Linked DNA regions of Homo sapiens. The protein of the gene in region 2 purifies or fractionates together with the protein of the main gene of each other region. This does not show direct contact. Each region holds a gene or a part of one and is shown on either strand. Other genes may lie near its edges.

Region 1 (7,025 bases), on a different chromosome or scaffold from region 2:
CTGGTTGTCTCATCATCAGATACAAGTGCATCAGCTGTTGAGCCAAATTTGGTTTTCAAGTCTAGAGTCATTTCTTTTTTCAAAAGTTTATAGGCATCAATCTTATCCTGTTCATTTGAGACCTGAGAACTATTGCTGGTTTTGTTGTTTTCACTTTCTGGCACTTTTAGTTTATCTTGCAGCATTTCTTCAAAAGATTCAAATGAAGCCTGCTCTCCCTGAGCATGATTTGCTTGGCTGTTTGCATGGGAGTGGTGCTTCTGAGTTGTAAACTGTTCCTGAAGATCCTCAGTGTTTTCTGAGAATACACTATCACTTTCCTCTGAGTTGGCTTCTACTGGTTCAGGTTCAGGTTCCCTTTCCTTAGATAATTCAGGGTTTTTTTCCATATCCTGTAAAGTTTTTTCTACAGCTTTCTCAGAATCTGTAGCTGCAGAATTGTACAGTTCCAAAAACCCTAAAAGTTCTTCTACATTATAATTATGAAAATCATCTCTTCCTCCATCAAAACAAACAAAATCCGTCTCCTGTAAGAAAAAGAAAAACATTAGTCTGTCAATAGCCAAGTGTCACCAGAGCAAAGTCTTATCCACGTTAATGATTGAGATAATCTCGAATTCACGTTTGGCTCTAGAGGAGCTTTTGCGTCAACACTGGGCACTGACTGTTCTTGGGCAGTGGGTGGATAGGAGGCTGGAACCCACTTTCCCATCTGAGTAATACTCCTGGCTTCCCTTCATTCTCTCTTCCCCAGGGGAAGAATGATTCATGTGGCTGGTGAGTTTGCTCAGTCCCAATCCTGTTTTCTGTTTGGGACCTGCTGGAGAGGAAACACATATTCTGTTCCTCCATGCTGTCCGTTTTACAGGGACAGTCCCACCTGGGGAGACCCCTATTGGATAGCTCTGTCTGTGACTGGATAAGTCCATCTTAGTTTAGACCGCAATGTTAGAAAGCCCATTATTTCTGCATACTCCAAACAGCTTTATCAGTAAATAATGGGGTCATTTTGATCTCCTATTTGCCCAACTCCTGGGTCTCTCAATTTTGTTTTGAGCACAGGTGGGGAAAAGTAAGGTGTCATTTATTGGGTTCCCCAACTCCCATCATCTATGCCTGATGTTCTGGGAATTCACCTTATAACCCATCCAGGAGGAGCTGAAAGACCATCAGCTTCTCTACATTGTGCCCTCTATGTCATACTTCTCTGCTCACCCAGTCAGAAACAGGCAGAATCACCTGGCTGTCAGGCTCTCAGTCTACATGGATTTGGGGCTCATATTTTCCTTGGACTGGGAAAGAAATCAGCTTCAGAAGGAACTTACTGAGATACAGGTGCATGAGATATAAAAATGTAAGAGAACAAAGAATGGTGTAAAGGAGGCTCCCCATTTTCATACTGCCACAAGAACAACTTGAAAACAAGATTCAGTAAGGTAGGTACCTAACTCCAAATAAGGATTCTAGCCAGTCACTAAGATCTGCTTTCAGGACTGTCAAGTAAATCTGTATTTTTCCCTTCCTCCACCAGTAAGCAAATTGACATACAAGGAGCCATAAAATGATGGAAAAGTTAAAAAACCAACAAAGATAACTTTCTTCCCCTAACTAAACATTCACAATCTTCTGGTGAGAACTGTCCTGTGTACTGGAGATGAATGACTTCCCTCTTTCCATCATGCACACTTCTGAGCCAATTTTTTTAATATTAAGGGAATCATGCAGTGGGAACTACAATTAGTATACAGGTCAGGTCTCTGTGACCAATGAATTGCTGTCTCACACTCAAATCCCGGGCAGTCTCTTCATCAGGAGTGAAGCCAAACAGGCAATACGATTGACTATATAACCCCTGAGAGCGTCGAGAAATTTTAAGCATAGCAATAGCTCTGTGACTTCACTCTGCCAATCTCTTCTAAGAACTGCCCTAGCCCAGCAGCTTGCACGCTCTGCAGCAACTCCAAAGAGCTACTCAAAGACTTTTGAATGAAAGCAGACATCAATTACTATAAATTCTAAAACTCACAAAACAATCAGATGGGGGGCTGGGCATGGTGTTTTTTATATATATATATGAAAGGCAGCCTGTAATCCTAGCACTTTGGAAGGCCAAGGCAGATGGATCACTTGAGGTCAGGAGTTTGAGACCAGCCTGGCCAACACGGTGAAACCTCGTTCCTACTAAAAACACAAAAAAATTGGCTGGGTGTGGTGGCAGGCGCCTGTAATCCCAGCTACTCCAGAGGCTGAGGCAGGAGAATTGCTTGAACCTGGGAGGCGGAGGCTGCAGTGAGCTGGTATCGCACCACTGCACTCCAGCCTGGGCGGCAGAGAGAGACTCTGTCTCAAAAAAATAATAATCAGATGGAATGCAGATTCTAGAACACAAAATCCTTCTAGTCACGAAGCCATTGTGCACTATAGATAAATGCTCTACAGAATGTGTAGTTAGCGCCTTACAGATATGAGACTGGACCTCACCTGAAACTCTCTGGTTCCCTTTTCCAAATCTATAACTATAATCGCTTAAATCACTACAGAGTCAATAATAAGAAAACCTTTGTAAGTTTGCATTTCTGGCTCAGTATAAAATTAGAGCTTAATTAATTTAACCTGATTTCTATATCCTTAAAATGTCTAACAGCTATCCAATAAGTAGTTTTCAAATTTCTCCTTTTGCTTGTGAAATGAAATTTTTTGCCTTCTAACATTAATAAGTAAATATAAAACTACTGAACTCTTAATTTTTCACATATAAAGCAGCAAAGAAAAGCCTTGTATAAGAGTACACGGCCTTGGCCGGGCGCAGTGGCTCACGCATGTAATCCCAGCACTTTGGGAGGCTGAGGCGGGCGGATCATGAGGTCAGGAGATCGAGACCATCCTAACACAATGAAACCCCATCTCTACTAAAAATACAAAAAATTAGCCAGGCGTGGTGGTGGGCGCCTATAGTCCCAGCTACTTGGGAGGCTGAGGCAGGAGAATGGCGTGAACCCAGGAAGCAGAGCGTGCAGTGAGCCGAGATCACGCCACTCCACTCCAGCCTGGGTGACAGAGCGAGACTCCGACTCAAAAAAAAAAAAGAGTACATAGCCTTATATAAGAACATCTATTTCCATATATTAGATAACTATCAGATTATGATAAAATCTCATTTAAATTCTTTTGAAATTTTTCTTTTTTTCTAGGTAGTCACTTATAAGCCAACTTATAACTGAGAACAAGACAGAAATCCACAACTTACATCTGTTGGAACTTGTAGCTCTTCTTTGGTATATTCATGAACTACCTGGATTAAATCTTTTGGAAAATATCCAAAAGTGCGTCCAACCTACACAAAAGAATGGGCAAAAGGGACACATATCAATCAAATTCTGTATGAGAAATATGAACGATAGAGCTGCAAACCTCAATCTACAGCACATATCAAGCAATCAACTTTTTCTTGTAATGTCATTACTTTTCTCCGCTATTTGAGACCACTTCCAACATCACTAGTGACACTTTGTATGGGTCCCAGAGTGTTATTCAAGGTTTACAGTATTGCACTAAACACAAAAAATACATGAGAACCACAAGAGATCACTTTTTACTCACTGTACAATTTACTGGAGAGATGAACTGCTCACGTGGAAATGATTAGCGTCGCATGGCATTTTAAGTGGATACTCACAATACTTGAGCTCACTAGAATAGCAAGAGGAGGTGGCTACGAACTATTATAGTACAGTAGGTAGCACAATTAATTTATGCAATTATGATTTAATATTTTATCTTTACGTTTGTTTATATTTCTCTCGACTGCAAAAGGTGCCATGTAAGATCTGAGTTTGTGTGTGTACGTTTTGATAAACTGTAACTTTTTATACAGATTTGTGTATGTTTTATGGTAGTAAAGAATAAAATACACTAGGATCTACATATGGTTTACATGTCAATAACATACCTTTTTCTTAATTTTTTCAGTATTTCTAGGCTATGCGGTCTGAGAGTTTTTAACAAATTAATGCAAACCTCCACAAAATTTTACAATATATTTATTGAAAGAAATCTGCATTATAAGTGGACCCACACAGTTCAAACCTGTGTTGCCCAAGGATGAACTGTATTTGCACATATGATGTGCTATACTGCCATTTTCCAAAACGATATTACAGGTAACTGGAGACAAAACAAAATTACAGTGTAATACACACTAATCTGCCCACCAAGCTTTCATTTCATGCAAACCAAAATCTCTACAGAAAATAATTCCATTCATTTTCAGCACTAGTAAAATGTGCCCTCTTGAGAAACACACAGTCTTTTACTAGCTACTGTCTGAAAGGAGAGGTAGATCTCCCAATCATTAAAGGAGGAGGCTGGCATGTAAATCAAATGCACAAAAAGAAAAAAAGGCCATCTTATCACTAATTCATAAAACATCTCCATTCATGAGTGCTCTTGATCTGAAAACTATCTGAAAGCCAGTATTAGTAGTAAAATACTGCCATGGAGATTAGATAAGGGCAATTAAACTCTGTGTTATTGGCAGATCAAGTCTAAAATGCTAAGAAACCAAAAAAGACTGCAGAATGAAAACTAAGAAACAAATGAGAATCATTTTGAAAGCTGAAGACAGAGTTTTTAATTTCCTAAGAATAAGGTTCATCAAATTAGAGGGGAGACTATTTTAAGGGAGAACCTGGAAAAAGGAAACAAATCAGAGGTAGAGGTATATAGGGAAAGGGAAATACAATACATTTACCTTCCTTAATCTTTGTCAGTTGGGACCACAGGTGGCATCTCATTTCTTATGATTTGACCAAAAAAAAAACAAAAAAAAAAACATAGGCTCACATGACAAGAAAAAATCTTTATGTCTAATTTTGCTTTCATACATCATTTCTGCCAAGGTACTGTTGATTTCATTTGGGCGGGGGGTAGGAGGGAAAGTAGAGTATCGCCTTAAGAGAACAAATTCTGCATAAGATAATATCAGGACAAATATAAATAAATGCCACTGCCTCGTCAGGAAATACTGAAAAAGAAGACAGATAAGGCATGAGCCTTTCCATTAAAGAGTCTTTCACTTTACGTGAGCTAAGACAGTACACAAATTAACTGCCATACAAAGCAGTAAAGCAAATGCCACATGAACAGTGCAAACAAAGTGCCACCTAAACAATCATCAGGCAGCAAAGATCCCTTCTGGCTGGGTGCTGAAGGCAGCGTTCCTTAAGAAGGCAGGATGAGAGGTGTGACCCAGAAAGACTGACAGGACATCCAGAGATGAAGACGTGAATGAGCAAAACTGCAGTGGGAGGAAAATGTTAAGTCAAGTTCATTCATCCAAATGCTCAAAGATGAGGAGTGGAAAAAAAAACTTAACTTTTCTATGAAAAAACGCAGCCTAGGTACATGGAAAAACATTTCCAAGAGTAAAGATTATCAACAAATCTCATTAGGTAGACTTGAAGGAAATAGAATAGATTTGTTTTGGTATGGAGCAAGTCACTTGGGATGCTCTCTAAATAGGAGAGCTGAACCTGACCAGTTGTTGTTTCCCAAGATTACTCCCTAGGAACCTGGAATGCCAACAAAATCAGTCTATTTTCCCCAAGGGGATTTCTCAAGCCTTATTTTCTCTTTGTTTGTTTGGTGTTTTACTGACAGTGAAAACTTTCATAGTCGGGATGGGTATTTCTCTAAGTTGGGACAATCCTAAAGATATCGAGGACCCTTACTACTTGAAGTAAAGACACAGTCCACATATCACGCTTTCTAAAAAGGAAAGGACAATAACTCATAAGACAGGCCTCTCAATCAGGTCACTCCCAGTGAATCTCCTCATTAAAAATACCAAAGCATGATGCAGTCATTGATTGCCAGGTCTGATAGCAGGGTACCCATAAAATCAGCTGGGAATCAATCCCCTGGGGTAACCTCCAGACACAAGTGTCTGAAAAGCAGGACAAGGATGACCCCAAGGCTGCAAACAAAAATACAAACAAGAGGCTGGTTGCGGTGGCTCACGCCTGTAATCCCAGCACTTTGGGAGGTCAAGGTGGGTGGATCACAAGGTCAGGAGATCGAGACCTAGCTAACACAGTGAAACCCCGTCTCTACTAAAAAAATACAAAAAATTAGCCGTGTGGTGGCAGGCACCTGCAGCCCCAGCTACTCGGGAGGCTGAGGCAGGAGAATGGCGTGAACCCGGGAGGCGGAGCTTGCAGTGAGCCGAGATCGCGCCACGGCACTCCAGCCTGGGCGACAGAGCAAGACTCCGCCTCAAAAAAAAAAAAACAAACAAACAAGAAAGCACACGAGAAACAACATTTTGCTTTTTTACAGACTTATAATAGCACAGATGATTAGGGAACTGTTCCCAAGACTGCCACTTTTTCATAAATAATAATATAAACAAAGAAATACACATAAAATCAACTTTAAGCTTACATGCCTGAAACACTCTCTCACATATAGTTTACAGGAGTAAGTCTAATTCCTATGAATACTTCCTTTTTAAAGCAATGAAGTATTTTTCAGCTCTTACCATTTCAACCTCTAATACGTATGCAGCATCCTAGAGGTTGACCCTGAGGGGAACTTGCCAGAATCAGTTCTATTTCAGAAGGCTCTGCTGAGCCCCTACTCTGTGCAGACCCAAGGCCTGCTGGGGACACAGGGCCATCTTTTTTCACAGTCAGGCAGAGAGGACAAGTTAACTCCATCAAAGGTCCCAAGAAAATGCAGTCATTTAACTCTACAGTGCTAAAGAAGCCAATAAAAATTAAGCAAATAAAGTATGTCGATATTTTACTTACACTTCCAGCCCAAACTTCAGGCCATCCTCTTGCCAGTTTATAGTAAACATATACAGGATCACCTTTTTTAAAATTCACAAAACGACAATCCGGGCCTGTGAAATCTTCAAGAGCCTCACCGCGGTACATTAACACTGTATATAAAGAGAGAGAAAAAAAATAGCCAGATATCAGGATTCAGTGTTCACAGTGCATATTGATTTATCAGGAAATATA
Region 2 (7,025 bases):
TATCTTTCATGATAAGAGATAGTAGGGTATAGTGAGTAAAGCTTGGGCTCAGAGATAGAAAGTATGAAATTCGAATTTTGCCACTTACTAGCTATGTGACTTTGAACTTAGATTCTGACACTATGTATATTATCATTTATAAAATGAGAACCCTACTTCACAGGGCTACAGCAAATGAAACATACATCTCTATAAAACAGCAAAACACTCTATGTTAGCCAAATAGAAGGCACTTAAGACTAATGTAAACCAGTTTGGCCATTTTTCCCCCATCTACTTTATGTTTACAGCTTTCTTCACCTGGGCTGGCCCTACTGCAAGTTGAACACAAAGATACTCAACATGGTTCACTTGAGGAATACCAACAGGGCCAAGAGACTAAAATATGTCAGCCTATTAGGACCCAGAATTCTTTTCATGAATTTGGCTTCTCCCCAACCTGGTTTTTGGTGGCAATTTTTGAGGGACAGAATTTAGCTCAGATAACTGTTCATTTGTTTATTTCTTTAATGCAGGTTTTATCTTCGTGAAGACTAAGGAACTGTGTGTTACATATTGTTCTGTTGCTTTTAGGTTAAGTTACGTATTTTATTTAGGCCAGGCACAGTAGCTCATGCCTGTAATCCCAGCACTTTGGGAGGCCGAGATGAGAGGATTGCTTGAGCCCAGGAGTTAGACACCAGTGTGGGCAACATGGCAAGACTCAGTCTTTACAAAAATGTTAAAAATTAGGCCAGGCCTGGTGGCACATGCCTGTGGTCCCAAATATTCAGGAAGCTGAGGTGGAAGGATTCCTTGGGGGTCGTGGCTGTAGTGAGCTGTGTTTGTGCCCCTGGGTACTACAGCCCAGGTAACAGAGCAAGACCCTGTCTTAAAAAAAAATGTTATTTTTCAGTAAATCAATTATTAAACATTTACACTTATTGAATTTATTTAACAAATACTGAGTGTCTTCATATGCCCAGTACTATTCTAGGCCCTTGGTATATAGTGGTGAATTGAACATAACAAAAATGCCCTTATGGAGCTTCAATTCCAGGGGTGTTTGTGTTGTCTAAACTGTCAAAGTGAAGACTATTTTAATTGTAATATGAATGGTATGTTCAATTTATACCATTTAATCTTTCAGGGTTTTTAAACTAGAGGCAACTTTTCTTTTTTTTTTTTTTTTTTTTTTTTTGAGGCGAAGTCTCACTCTGTCACTTGGGCCAACTGGTGACAACTTCTTTTATTTATTTATTTATTTATTTTTTATTTTTTTTTTTGAGACAGAGTCTCGCTCAGTCGCCCAGGCTGGAGTGCAGTGGCGCAATCTTGGCTCGCTGCAAACTGTGCCTCTTGGGTTCACGCCATTCTCCTGCCTCAGCCTCCCGAGTGGCTGGGACTACAGGCACCCGCCACTAAGGCCAGCTAATTTTTTTGTATTTTTAGTAGAGACGGGGTTTCACCGTGTTAGCCAGGATGGTCTCGATCTCCTGACGTCGTAATCTGCCGGAATTGACCTCCCACAGTGCTGGGATTACAGGCGTGAGCCACCGTGCCTGGCCTGTGGCAACTTCTTAATAGCTGAAGTTGAATTCCCTTGTCCTTTGCAAATAACTCACTTTAGTTTAGCTATTATTTGTTTATATTGGTAACTTTGATTACTGTAATATTTGTAGGTGGAAAGAATACATATACATACGTATATATATACATACATACATATATATATGGAATTTTTTTTTTTTTCATGGAATTTCGCTCTTGTTGCCCAGGCTGCTGGAGGGCAGTGGCGCGATCTCGGTTCACCACAACCTCCGCCTCTCGGGTTCGCGTGATTCTCCTGCCTTAGCTTCCGGAGTAGCTGGGATTACAGGCATGTGCCACCACGCCTGGCTAATTTTGTATTTTTAGTAGAGACTGGGTATCTCTATGTTGGTCAGGCTGGTCTCGAGCTCCTGACCTCAGGTGATCCACCTACCTCTGCTTCCCAAAGTGCTGGGATTACAGGGGTGAGCCACCACTCCTGACCATATGGATATATATTCTTTGGATTGCCTTTCGTTTTTATAAACTATAAGTGTTTTATGTAAATTTATTATTTGAACCTTTTAAGTTGTTGTGGGGAAACAAGAATGGTGGAAAGGGGGGTGATTTTTCTAGTGTCGTGAATGTTTCAGTGTCACAAATATCATTTCCCTGAAATGATAACCATTCATAAGCCCAAACCCTTTATGTCAGGCCTTTTGAACCTTAGTTAGCTCTTCTGTCTTTCATTGCTTCAATTCTTTAATAAGAAGTTGTTATATATTACTTTCTCTTTGACCACCGACATTCTCATTTTTCTCTAAAACTTCTCAAAGTTAGGAGTGAATTTACAGAGAACAATGCAAAGAATATTATAACAAACTGCAGGAATGGACCTCTGATTTGAAGCCTGGACCTACTGAGAAATGCTTTTGGAAACTACTTCTGCTTCCCCCGTCTTAAAATAAACACGCATTAATTTGTTGAGGTTGTTTTGCATCACTTACTTGCATCTAGTAAATAGGCAAGGAGTGTAGCCAGAATGTCCCCAGAATGGTCAGATGGCAGAAAGAGCAGAGAGAGTGGTCTATTCTTCCAGCCCCCTCCCACAATGGTATAGTGAATTAGAATTCTGCCTCTGTGAGAGTGTTATCCACAGATGTATACCCCTTTGAAGACCAAGGAAGCTATACTCTGATAGGAGCATGCTGTATAAACAATTTCACATTTTCTTTGTCAGTTGACCTCTTTTTCTCAATCACATCACCATGTTGACAATTACAGACCAATGCCCAGAATTAAAAATCATCATCAATTATATTTATTTCCAGATATATGTAAAAAATGGAAACATCATAGATAAAATTAAATCCCCTTTGACCACCATCCCCAATGGCATATCTTCTCATCCCCACTCCACTATCATAAAATGGGTTTATATTCTTCCATCCTTCTTGGTTTAATGCTTTTATATAGAAAAGTATATTAATAGACTACTTTTTTTTTTTTTTTTTTGAGTCAGGGTCTTACTCCATTGCTCAGGCTGGAGTGGAGGGTCACAGTCACGGCTCACTACAGCCTCAACCTCCCAGGCTCAAGTGATCCTCCCACCTCAGCTTCCAGAGTAGCTGGGACTACTGGTGTGCACCACCACACCTAGCTGATTTTTTGTATTTTTTTTGTGGAGATGGAGTTTCACCACGTTGCCCAGGCTGGTCTCAAACTCCTGGGCTCAAGTGATCCGCTCGCCTCGGCCTCCCAAAGCTCCCAAAGTGGGGGACTACAGGTGTGTTCCACCACATCCAGCTTTCAACTTTTTTTTTTTTTTTTTTTTTTTGAGACAGAGTCTCACCCTGCCACCCAAGCTGGAGTGCAATGGCGTGGTCTCGGCTCACTGTTGCAACCTCCACCTCCTGAGTTCAATTGATTCTCCCACCTCAACCTCCCAAGTGGCTGGGACTACAAGCACGTGCCACCACACCCAGCTAATTTTTTGTATTTTTAGTAGAGACAGGGTTTCACTGTGTTGGCCAGACTGGTTCAAACTCCCGACCTCGTGATCCACCTGCCTCGGCCTCCCAAAGTGCTGGGATTTCAGGCATGAGCCGCCACACCTGGCCTTTTTTCTTTTTTAATCCAGTCTCGTTTATGACATTTAGATTCTTATTTTCTCTTTATTATTTTTCCTGATAATTTGACTTTCATTCCCCTTTCTTGTCATTAGCTCTACTGAAAGTGTACTGAAGGGCTGGGTGCAGTGGCTCACACCTGTAATCCCAGCACTTTGGAAGACCGAGGCAGGCCAATCACTTGAGCTCAGGAGTTCAAGACCAGCCTGGCCAACATGGCGAATCCCCATCTCTACAAAAAATACAAACATTAGTAGGGCATAGTGGCACATACCTGTAATCTCAGCTACTCGGGAGGCTGAGGCACAAGAATCGCTTGAACCTGGGAGGCAAAGGTTGCAGTGAGCTGAGATCGTGCCACTGCACGATCTCTCTCTCTATATATGTATATGTATACTAAAGGTCACCAATAATTTCTTAGTAAATATAATGACATTTTCTTCAGGACTTTTTATCCTTCAGAATCACGTTACCTTTTTCTTCCTTCAATTTCTATGTATGGTTCAATTCTCAGCATTTACTATTTTGAGAAAGTACACTTACTCACTCTCTTTCCTGTTTATTCAAACAACTCCCAGATCTGTGTCTTTATTCCTGACCTCTTTTCCTCATTTCCTTTAGCACCTAATTTCTACCTGCCCAGTGGACATTTCCATTTGTGTGTATACAGTATTGCCAATCAATCTAAAACTAAGCTACTTATCTTGACTTCTCAATTTTTGGTCTTTGATATTACCAGTCTTCTTGTCCACCAGCTATAAAACATAAATTTTATTTGTTTGTTTGTTTTTGAGACAGGGTCTGGCTCTGTCGCCCAGGCTGGAGTGCAGTGGCCCATCTCGGCTTACTGCAACCTCCATCCCCCACCCTCCGGCTCAAAATATCCTCCCACCTCACCCTCCTGACTAGCTGGGACTGCATGTCCAGCTAATTTTTGTATTTTTAGTAGAGACGGGCTTTCGCCGTGTTGCCCAGGCTGGTCTCAAACTCCTGAGCTTAAGTGACCCTCCTGCCTCAGCCTCCCATAGTGCTGGGATTACAGGCATGAAGCTAGCCAAAACATAAGTTTTTCTTGTTTTCTTTGTTTTTGTTAAAGAAACAGGGTCTTGCACTCCCAGGCTCAAGCCTCCCAAGTAGCTAGGAGCACAGGGCAAGCCAGCATGCCCAGCTAATTTTTTTTAAACTTTTTTTTTTTTGGTGGGGAGGGGGATAGAGACGGGTCTCACTATGTTGCCCAGGCTGTCTCAAACTCCTGTTCTCCACCAATCCTACCTTGGCCTCCCAAAGTGTTAGGACTACAGGTATGAGCTACCTTGCCCGGCCTATTTACATTTTTTTGCTGCCTTCTTTCCTTCCAGATCCACTTGTTCATCACATATTGTTGATTTTCCTTTTTCTAGCTTCAATTTTTCACTTGGTCCAGTTTGGCCTACAGAGTGGCACTAGAATTAGCGAAGGCACAATTATAATCATGCGATTTCTATACTTAAAAATCTGCCAGTCTCTGTGTCACGTAAAAGGATAAAACGTAAACTTTCAACGGGGTAACGTGCTTTGATCTGTTACTATAATCCAGCCCCAACCTACCTTAACCATCCTTTCCTGCACTCCCCTTCATTGACCCCTGAACATATCCTGCTCTTTCATTTCTTTATTTTTGCTTTAGGTGCCTTCCTCCCTCCTAACACCTGGTGAAGTCTTACCCATATTGAATTCAGCTGAAATACCACAGTGACACCTTGCACAGCTCCCCCAAACAGAGTTAATAACTCCTTTCTGTGTTTCAATAGAACCTTGTTGCATTTATTATAGTGTATCACATTGTACTGTAAATTTTTTAATATACTTGTCCCATGTCTCAGAGCTTCCCACACACACACATATTCATCTGGAAGTTCACTGAGAACAGAAACTGCCTGTATTCCCTATCCTATTTTCCCACAAGGGCCTTAGTGCATAGGAGACCCTCTTTTGTATCATGATGTCTTTCTTTTCATTCTTTGTGACATATCAGTGCTTAGAATAATCATGCAGAAGCACCATTTTTTTAAATTGCCTCATTTGCTCAAAACTTGTATTTTCTTACTGCTTATTGAGATTAAGTTCAGGGCTGGGCACTTTGGGAGGCTGAGGCAGGAGGATCGCCTGATCTCAGGAGTTTGAGACCCACCTGAGCAAAATACTAAGACCCCCGTCTCTACAAAAAATAAAAAAGTAACCAGTGTAGTGGTGCATGCCTATACTCCCAGCTACTCAGGAGGCTGAAGCGGGAGGTTCACTTGAGCCTGGGAGATTGAGGCTGCAGCAAGCCATTATCACATCACTGCACTCCAGCCTGGGTATAACAAAGCAAGACCTTGTCTCAAAAAAAAAAAAGAAAAGAAAAGAAAAAAAGATCTGGCCGGGCTCAGTGGCTCATGCCTGTAATCCCAGCACTTTGGGAGGCCGAGAGGAGCAGATTGCTTGAGCCCAAGAGTTTGAGACCAGCGTGGGCAACATGGAGAAACCCTGTGTCTACTTAAAAAAAAAAAGAAAGAAAGAAAAAATAGCTGGGTGTGGTGGCCCACACCTGTAATTGCAGCTGCTGGGGAGGCTGAGATGGGAGGATCACCTGAGCCCAGGTTATGGAGGTTGCAGTGAGCTGAGATTGCACCATGCCACTGCACTCCAGCCTGGGCCACAGAGCAAGACCCTGTCTCAAAAAAAAAAAAGAGATCATATTCTTTAGCCTGTCCTTCAGGACACTCACCATTATTCACAGACCATTTATTATGCTCCCTATTATGTTTAAGATATGCCGTACATAGCTGGCACCAACTGCCTTTTTAAAGCCTTTCTTCTCTTTATGAATAAGTGTATAAGTACCCAAGTCTTTTGCCCAAGCCAAACTGGCTTGCGCACTTTCTTCCAAACATAAGGTGGTTTTTGTTTTTGGGTTTTGTTTGGCATCTTTTCTTTCAAAGCTCTACCCATTTTTCAAGACCTAGTTAGGTTCTGCCTTGTTTATAATGCTCTTCTGACCATGTCTGCAGAAATATTTTTCTCTTCTTCTCCAGACTCATGTAGCAGTTCATCTTCAGTGCCTCCTAATTCTTTTTTTTTTTTTTTTTTGAGGCAGAGCCTTCACTCTGTTGCCCAAGCTGGAATGCAGTAGTGCAACCTTGGCTCACTGCAGCCTCCGGGTTCAAGCGATTCTCATGCTTCAGCCTCCCAAGTAGCTGGGATTACAGGTGTGTGCCATCATGCTCAGCTAATTTTTTGTATTTTTAGTAGAAACAGGGTTTCACTGTTTTGGCCAGGCTGGCCTTGAACTCCTGGTCTCAAGCAGTCCTCCCCACTCAGCCTCCCAAAGTGCTGGGATTACAGGCATGAGCCACCACGCCTGAC
Region 3 (7,159 bases), on a different chromosome or scaffold from region 2:
CCAGCATGGTGAAACCCTGTCTCTACACAAATAGAAAAATTAGCCAAGCATGGTGGCGGATGCCTGTAATCCCAGCTACTTGGGAGGCTGAGGCAGGAGAATCACTTGAATCCGGGAGGTGGAGGTTTCAGTGAGCCTAGATCGTGCCATTGCACTCCAGCCTGGGCAACTGAGCGAGACTCCTCAAAAAAACAAAACAAAACAAAAAGACTATTTTACTATGCTTCTATTTAACTAACAGCTATGGAATATCTACTATCAAGCCAAGTGCTCAGGAATACAAAGATAAACTATGGTTCTTGACCTCAAAGAGATTTACCATATAATGCAGGAAACTGTCACCTTTCTGAACTACAATTCAATTAAATATCAAATTGACTTTCATGTATCCAAGTATTTGCCTTTTGTATAATGCTACCTACCATACACGTTCTTGTCAGTTTTTTATATACTTGTGATTCAGTACTTCCAAAATATATGCAGAATGACTAAAGTTTATACTCCCATCAGCAAGATCATGTTTCCGCACAGGCTTATCAACAATATCATACAACTTTTAAATTTCCTGTAAATCTTAAGGTCATAAAGTAGTACATTATTATTGTTTAAATTTGCATAATCTGATTACTAACAAGGTTGAGACTATCTAATATGCTTATTAGTCATTTTAACTTTCATTTTGTGAACTGCTTCTCCCTATCCTTTGTCTGCTTTTCTGTTGGGTTTTCTGCTCTATTTTCCGAAGTTCTTTATTTTTAACTATTGATTTTTGTTGGCAATATATACTGCAAAAAATAGATTTCCTATGTGTCTGTTATGGATGACTTTTTTGAACAGAAATCCTTAAATTTAATGTAATAGATTCATCACATTTTCCCTTTACATTGTACCTCCTGTCTGTTAATTTTACAAAATTCTCTCCAACTAAAATGTCCCCAAATTATTTTCCTACGTTTTTTCCTAATTTTCTGGTTTTACTTTTCTTTTTTTTTTTTTTTTGAGACGGAGTCTTGCTCTGTCGCCCCGGTTGGAGTGCAGTGGTGAGATCTCGGCTCACTGCAAGCTCCGCCTCCGGCATTCACGCCATTCTCCTGCCTCAGCCTCCCGAGTAGCTGGGACTACAGGCGCCCGCCACCACAACCGACTAATTTTTTTGTATTTTTAGTAGAGACGAGGTTTCACCGGATTAGCCAGGATGGTCTCGATCTCCTCACCTCGTGATCCGCCCGCCTCGGCCTCCCAAAGTACTGGGATTACAGGCTTGAGCCACCGCGCCCGGCCTGGTTTTACTTTTCATGTTCAGGTCTTATACCCATCTGAATTTGTATATAGATATGATTCAAACTTTATTTTTGTTAATTAAATTGAACCAATTTCTCCAATGTGATAAAATAATTTATCTTACCCAGTGATTCATAATACCAATTTTATCATATACCAACTCCCCATGGACATAATTAGCATGTAAATCTGTGTCTTACACAATTACATTCCATCGTTTGTTCCTCCAAGAGTATCACATACTTTAATAGTAACAACATGCTTTAAATATTAAGAGTTGGGTAAGTATAGGCAGAGAACAAGGGAAATAAAGAGAAATGGTTGATAATTTAAAAAATAATAAATATTAGAGCTTTGCTTATAGCAAATAAAAAATAAATGTTAGGACTTATTATAAATATTAAACTTTAGCAAGTACTTCTTCTGCATGTATTGAGATAAATGTGGGTTTCCTCCTTTGGTCTGTCAGTATTATGGATTATATTGATTTCTGTTTGATGATTTCTGTATTCCTAGGAAAACCCTACTTGGATAAAAAAATAATTCTAATACAACGTTGGCCTCAGGTAGCTAATATTTCCTATGTTTGCCTCTGTAGTCCATAAGTGTGAATTTTTTTTTTTTTTTTTTCTGGAGACTGAGTCTTGCTCTTTCGCCCAGGCTGGAGTGCAGTAGCGTGATGTTGGCTCACTGAAACCTCCGCCTCCCGGATTCAAGTGATTCTCCTGCCTCTCCCTCTGGAGTAGCTGAGACTACAGGCACCTGCCACCACGCCTGGCTAATTTTTGTGTTTTTTATTAGAGACAAGGTTTCACCATATTGGACAGGCTGGTCTCGAACTCCTGACCTCATGATCCACACGCCTCATGATCCAAACTGCTGGGATTACAGGCGTGAGCCATCGCACCCGGCAAGATTAATCTTTTCGTTAAACATGTAATAGAAAGTTACCCCGAAAATCATCTAGACCTGGCTAGTTTTGAATATGTGGGAAACTTAGCCTATTCGAGTTTTCTATTTTTTCTCGGTCTAATTTTGGTATTTGATGTTTTCCCAGATTTTATACTTCATCTAAGCTTTTCAATTTGTTGGCATTTATATATATATCTATAGTTATTCTCCCCTTAATTTGTGTCCTTTCATTTTTTATGTTCTTGAACAGATTTGGCAGTGATACATCAAATTGATAATTTCTTTCAAATAACGTTAGTTTTTGTTAATATCTATGTTGGTTTTAGCGTTTATATTTTAATTCTTTTCCTTCTTTGTGTTTACTCTCCTGGCTTTTTGGTAATATGTGTGTTCCACACACACACAAAAGCAATGGATTAAATTTCTTATTACTTACTATATTAAACATTTAATTACCGTGCTATAATTTATAGCCTGTAATATGTCACTCTTGCTTTAAAATGCAGTAATTATATTAAATATAATTATTAAGTACAGAACTAATAAAAGGATACCATCATGATTTTTAAAATTCAAACAGAGTAAATGTTCCCTTTGAGACTACCTATGCTCAGAACTGATGGATTAGCTGGCACGACCCAGACCGATAAACTGGCTCATCTGACCTAGTGTCCCCCAACCCAGGAACTGACTCGTGCAGAAAGACAGCTTCCACTCCCTGCGATTTCATCCCTGACCAATCAGCACTCCTGGCTCAGTGGCCTCCCCCAACCCACCAAATTGTCCTTAAAAATTCTGCTCCCCAGTGCTGCTCGGGGAGACTGATTTCAGTAATAATAAAACTCCAGTCTCCCATACAGCCGGCTTTGCGTGACTAAGTCTTTATTTGCAATCCCCCTGTCTTGTATCAGTTCTGGCTAGTCAGCGGGCAAGGTGAAGGCTTTCCTTGGGCGGTTACCATCCGAAGCTTTAATTTTAAGTATAATGGCAAGCTGTTGGAAAGCTTTTTTTTTTTTTTTTTTTTTTTTTTTTTTTTTTTTGAGATGGAGTCTGGCTCTGTCGCCCAGGCTGGAGTGCAGTGGCGCGATCTCGGCTCACTGTAACCTCCGCCTCCCGGGTTCAAGCAATTCTCTGCCTCAGGCTCCTGAGTAGCTGGAACTACAGGCGCCCGCCACCACCACGCCCGGCTACTTCTTGTATTTTTAGTAGAGACGGGCGTTCACCGTGTTAGCCAGGATGCTCCCGATCTCCTGACCTTGTGATCCGCCCGCCTCGGCCTCCCAAAGTGCTGGGATTACAGGCGTGAGCCACCCCGCCCGGCCTGGAAAGCTTTTTAAGTTCGGAAAGTAATACGATCTGGATTTCTTTTCTTTTATTTATTTATTTATTTATTTGAAAAAATGTCTCGCTCTCTTGCCCAGGCTGGAGTGCAGTGGCACGATAAATCACAGTTCGCTGCAGCCCCGGGCCCAAACAATCCCCCCGCCTCAGTCTCCGAAGTAGCTGGGACCACAGGTGTGTGCCACCACGCCTCGCTAAGTTTTTAAAATTTTTTTAATTTTTCATTTTTTAATTTTGTAGAGACGGGGAGGAGGAAGAGGGTCGGGGGCGGGGGGGGGGGCGCCTCCCTATGTTGCCCAGCCTAGTCTCGAACTCCTGGGCTTAAGAGATATCCCACCCCTTCGGTCTCCCAAAGTGCTGGGATTATAGGCGTCAGCCACCACCATCATTGGAAGCTAGCTAAGCCTAGGCTGGGCAGATACTTGGACACTTTGAGGGGAGAAGGGAGGGGAAGAAGTTGGAAGGGGGAACGGAAAACCACTCTCCTGGTAGCAGTCTCTGCCCACAACAAACCTTGCCTTCTGCCCTTAAGGAAAATGGCGCCTGGCATAGATGCGCTTCCGGCCACGGAGCCAAACAGAACAGAGGAGGCAAGAGGCCGGAAGTGACCGCCCTTTGCCACTCCCCCTGCCTCCTCTCCGCCTTTAACTTCTCGGGAAGATGAGGCAGTTTGGCATCTGTGGCCGAGTTGCTGTTGCCGGGTGATAGTTGGAGCGGAGACTGTGAGTGCCGGCTGCCTCGACAGCACGTTTGCGACGCTCGGAGTGACCTTCGAGCGACTGGGGACCGGGGGCGGGAGTCGTGCATGCAGCGTTGTGTGACGAGGCGCCGCCCGCCGCGGTCCTGTGGGAAAGGAGAGAGCCAGCTGTCGGGCGAACGGGGCTGGCGGCCGAGTCGAGCCCACGGAGCCCACGAGGCCGTGCTCGGGGGTGGGATTGGGGGATCCGGACCTAGACGGTCGTGCGCGGGGCGGGGGTGGGCTCTGGCCCTGACTCCTGCGCCCGGTGTGGGAAGGTGGGAGGCCTTTTCTAAGGCAGGTGTTCACACCGGCCGGACCGGGGCGTTACCCCCACCCGGCTTTTCCCACGCAGCTCCTTCGCGCGGTCATTTCTTGACTCTCTGGAAGAATCCGCCTTCTTTATGGCCACTGTTCCTTTCCATGTACACACCAGGATTAGACCGTGATTGTTTGTCTTTGGTGTCTTTTTCTTGAGAAACCACCTATGCTTTCTTAAACTTATAGTCCTTGAAGTTTCTGGTACTTTGGCTGGAAGCGTTAATGCCCTCTTGAAGCCTTACCTTTCTAAATGTCAGCCTCACATTGTGATCTTAGAATTTTATTTCCTCACTCTGCATATCCACTCCTACTCACCTAGAGCTTCAGGTTGAGAAACTTAGTAACTTCCTTATTGTGTGTGAATTTGGCTTCGCCTCACTAACCCTGTTCCCTGATGTACTTTAGAGTCACATGCAGTGACAAACTTAGTCACAATTAGTTTCGTCTTCACCAAAGGGAAATTGAGTAGAAATTGCAACCAAGATTTTGGCTAATAGATTTCACTTATTTTAGTGAAATATCATTCAAAAGTCGTCTCTAACTGTCTGACTAGAACACTCCCAAAAAAGAATTACCTAAAAACATTTTGCCAGCATAATTTATTTCATTGGGGAGTTGATGAATGTCACTGGTGTGTCATCAGTTTGCATGTCTATCATCCACTTTAGTTGGTGCTTTTCTAACTTTATCTCCCTCTAGTAGCATAATGGCAGAACCTGTTTCTCCACTGAAGCACTTTGTGCTGGCTAAGAAGGCGATTACTGCAATCTTTGACCAGTTACTGGAGTTTGTTACTGAAGGATCACATTTTGTTGAAGGTTAGTTCTTCTTAAGTTTTTAAAGTAATTACTGTTGAAAATATATAAAAGTGCTTATTCTTTCAACGTTAGTTATTGAACACATGTATAGGGCATTATACTGTATACTATGAGAAGTACCATAATGAATAAAACCCCTTTCTAACCTCCAGAAGGGGAAAATTAAATGGTATTAATAACAACTAAGAACTTTAGTATATTAATAGCTCATTTAATTTTCATCACCACTAGGTGATGAGAAATAGCTATGTTAATAGTTCATTTAATTTTCATCACCACCATCTGTCATTTTAAAGATGAAGAGACGAAGTCAAAGAAAAGTTAAACAGTTTGCCCAAGATCACACAGCTAATAAGTGCCCAGACAAAAAATCAGGCAGTCCACATTTAACCATTATACTTGTCTCCTCCCCAATTTAGCAGTTAAGCCAAGACCTCAGACATATCTCATTCTCTCAAATGAGGCTGAATTGCAGTGGAAAGGGGGAAAAAGGAGTTTCATAACTGTTAAAGGTGATGAGGAATGTCATGTCTTACTAGGGAATACTTCTTTTTTTTTTTTTTGAGACAGAGTCTTGTCTTGTTGCCCAGGCTGGAGTGCAGTGGCATGTTCTTGGCTCACTGCAGCCTCCACTTCCTGGGTTCAAGCGATTCTTCTGCCTCAGCCTCCCAAGTAAATGGGACTACAGTGCACGTGCCACCATGCCTGACTAATTTTTGTGTTTTTAGTAGAGACAGGGTTTCACCATATTGGCCAGGCTGGTCTCGAACTCCTGACCCCATGATCACCTCTCTTGGCCTCCCAAAGTGCTGGGATTACAGGTGTGAGCCACCACACCCGGCCAGGAATCCTTCTTTGGAGATAACTGTTGAAATTTTTTCTGGTTCTTAAGATTATGTACCTCTCGGCCAGGCGCCCTGACTCACACCTGTAATCCCAGCACTTTGGGAGTCCAAGATCGGCAGATTACCTGAGGTTAGGAGTTCAAGACCAGCCTGATCAACATGGTGAAACCCTGTCTGTACTAAAAATACAAAAATTAGCTGGGCCTGGTGGCAGACGCCTGTAATCCTAGCTACTCAGGAGGCTCGAGGAGGGAGAATCGCTTGAACCTGGGAGGCAGAGGTTGCAGTGAACCGAAGTCGCCCACTGCACTCCAGCCTGGGTGACAGAGTGAGACTCCATTTCAAAAAAAAAAAAAGATTATGCACCTCTCAACTATACAATGGAAAGGGAGGGATTCTGTAAATTTTTCCAGCGACAGTGGGGAAACCTTTGGTAGATTGGGAATCAAACTTTTTTTTTCATGTCTCTCCCAACCCTCTCTTACCATATTTTGAGCTCCTTTAGGGCAGGAGCCTGGGATTCATTGTATTCCTAGCACCAGACTTGACACAATTCAATGCTGAATGAGAAAAAAAAAATAGTAGTATAGAATCTTTGTTTCCAATTAGGAAATAATTTGAGCTGGCACAGTTGACTTTTTAAAAATATTTTTTTTTCTAAAAATAATAGGAAGTGAAAATGAAGTTAAATGTGTATTGTACGTGTTATAGATCATGCATCATGCTAGGCACTAGTGAAATGACAGCTTTAGAATCTGAATTCAGTTGTACAGGTTTTAGAACCTCAGTAAAAATGTTGCAAAAAGGAGACAAAGCAAATAAATCAAGAAAAACATACAAGAGCAAAAATAAAATGAAAAGCAAAAATAAATGTAATGATACTTAAACCAGTCTGTCCGTTATTC

The links. Proteins that work in one complex are often made in the same cells at the same time.
Region 1: the proteins of MARCHF5 (region 2) and MIA3 purify together in Homo sapiens (affinity purification with mass spectrometry; 3 studies listed by BioGRID and IntAct, with this or other methods). This does not show direct contact.
Region 3: the proteins of MARCHF5 (region 2) and MFN1 purify together in Homo sapiens (affinity purification with western blotting; 4 studies listed by BioGRID, with this or other methods). This does not show direct contact.

Annotation. Positions count from the first base shown.
Region 1 is NC_000001.11:222,621,077-222,628,101, reverse strand, and holds part of MIA3 (transport and Golgi organization protein 1 homolog isoform 1 precursor), read right to left. Parts: intron 6,944-7,025; coding exon 6,810-6,943; intron 4,796-6,809; exon of another isoform or gene 4,751-4,795; intron 3,335-4,750; coding exon 3,248-3,334; intron 528-3,247; coding exon 1-527.
Region 2 is NC_000010.11:92,294,161-92,301,185, forward strand, and holds part of MARCHF5 (E3 ubiquitin-protein ligase MARCHF5), read left to right. Parts: intron 1-7,025. UniProt on the Homo sapiens protein: Mitochondrial E3 ubiquitin-protein ligase that plays a crucial role in the control of mitochondrial morphology by acting as a positive regulator of mitochondrial fission and as an important regulator of immune response.
Region 3 is NC_000003.12:179,343,555-179,350,713, forward strand, and holds the start of MFN1 (mitofusin-1), read left to right. Parts: upstream 1-4,154; 5' UTR 4,155-4,256; intron 4,257-5,290; 5' UTR 5,291-5,297; coding exon 5,298-5,409; intron 5,410-7,159. UniProt on the Homo sapiens protein: Mitochondrial outer membrane GTPase that mediates mitochondrial clustering and fusion. Membrane clustering requires GTPase activity. It may involve a major rearrangement of the coiled coil domains.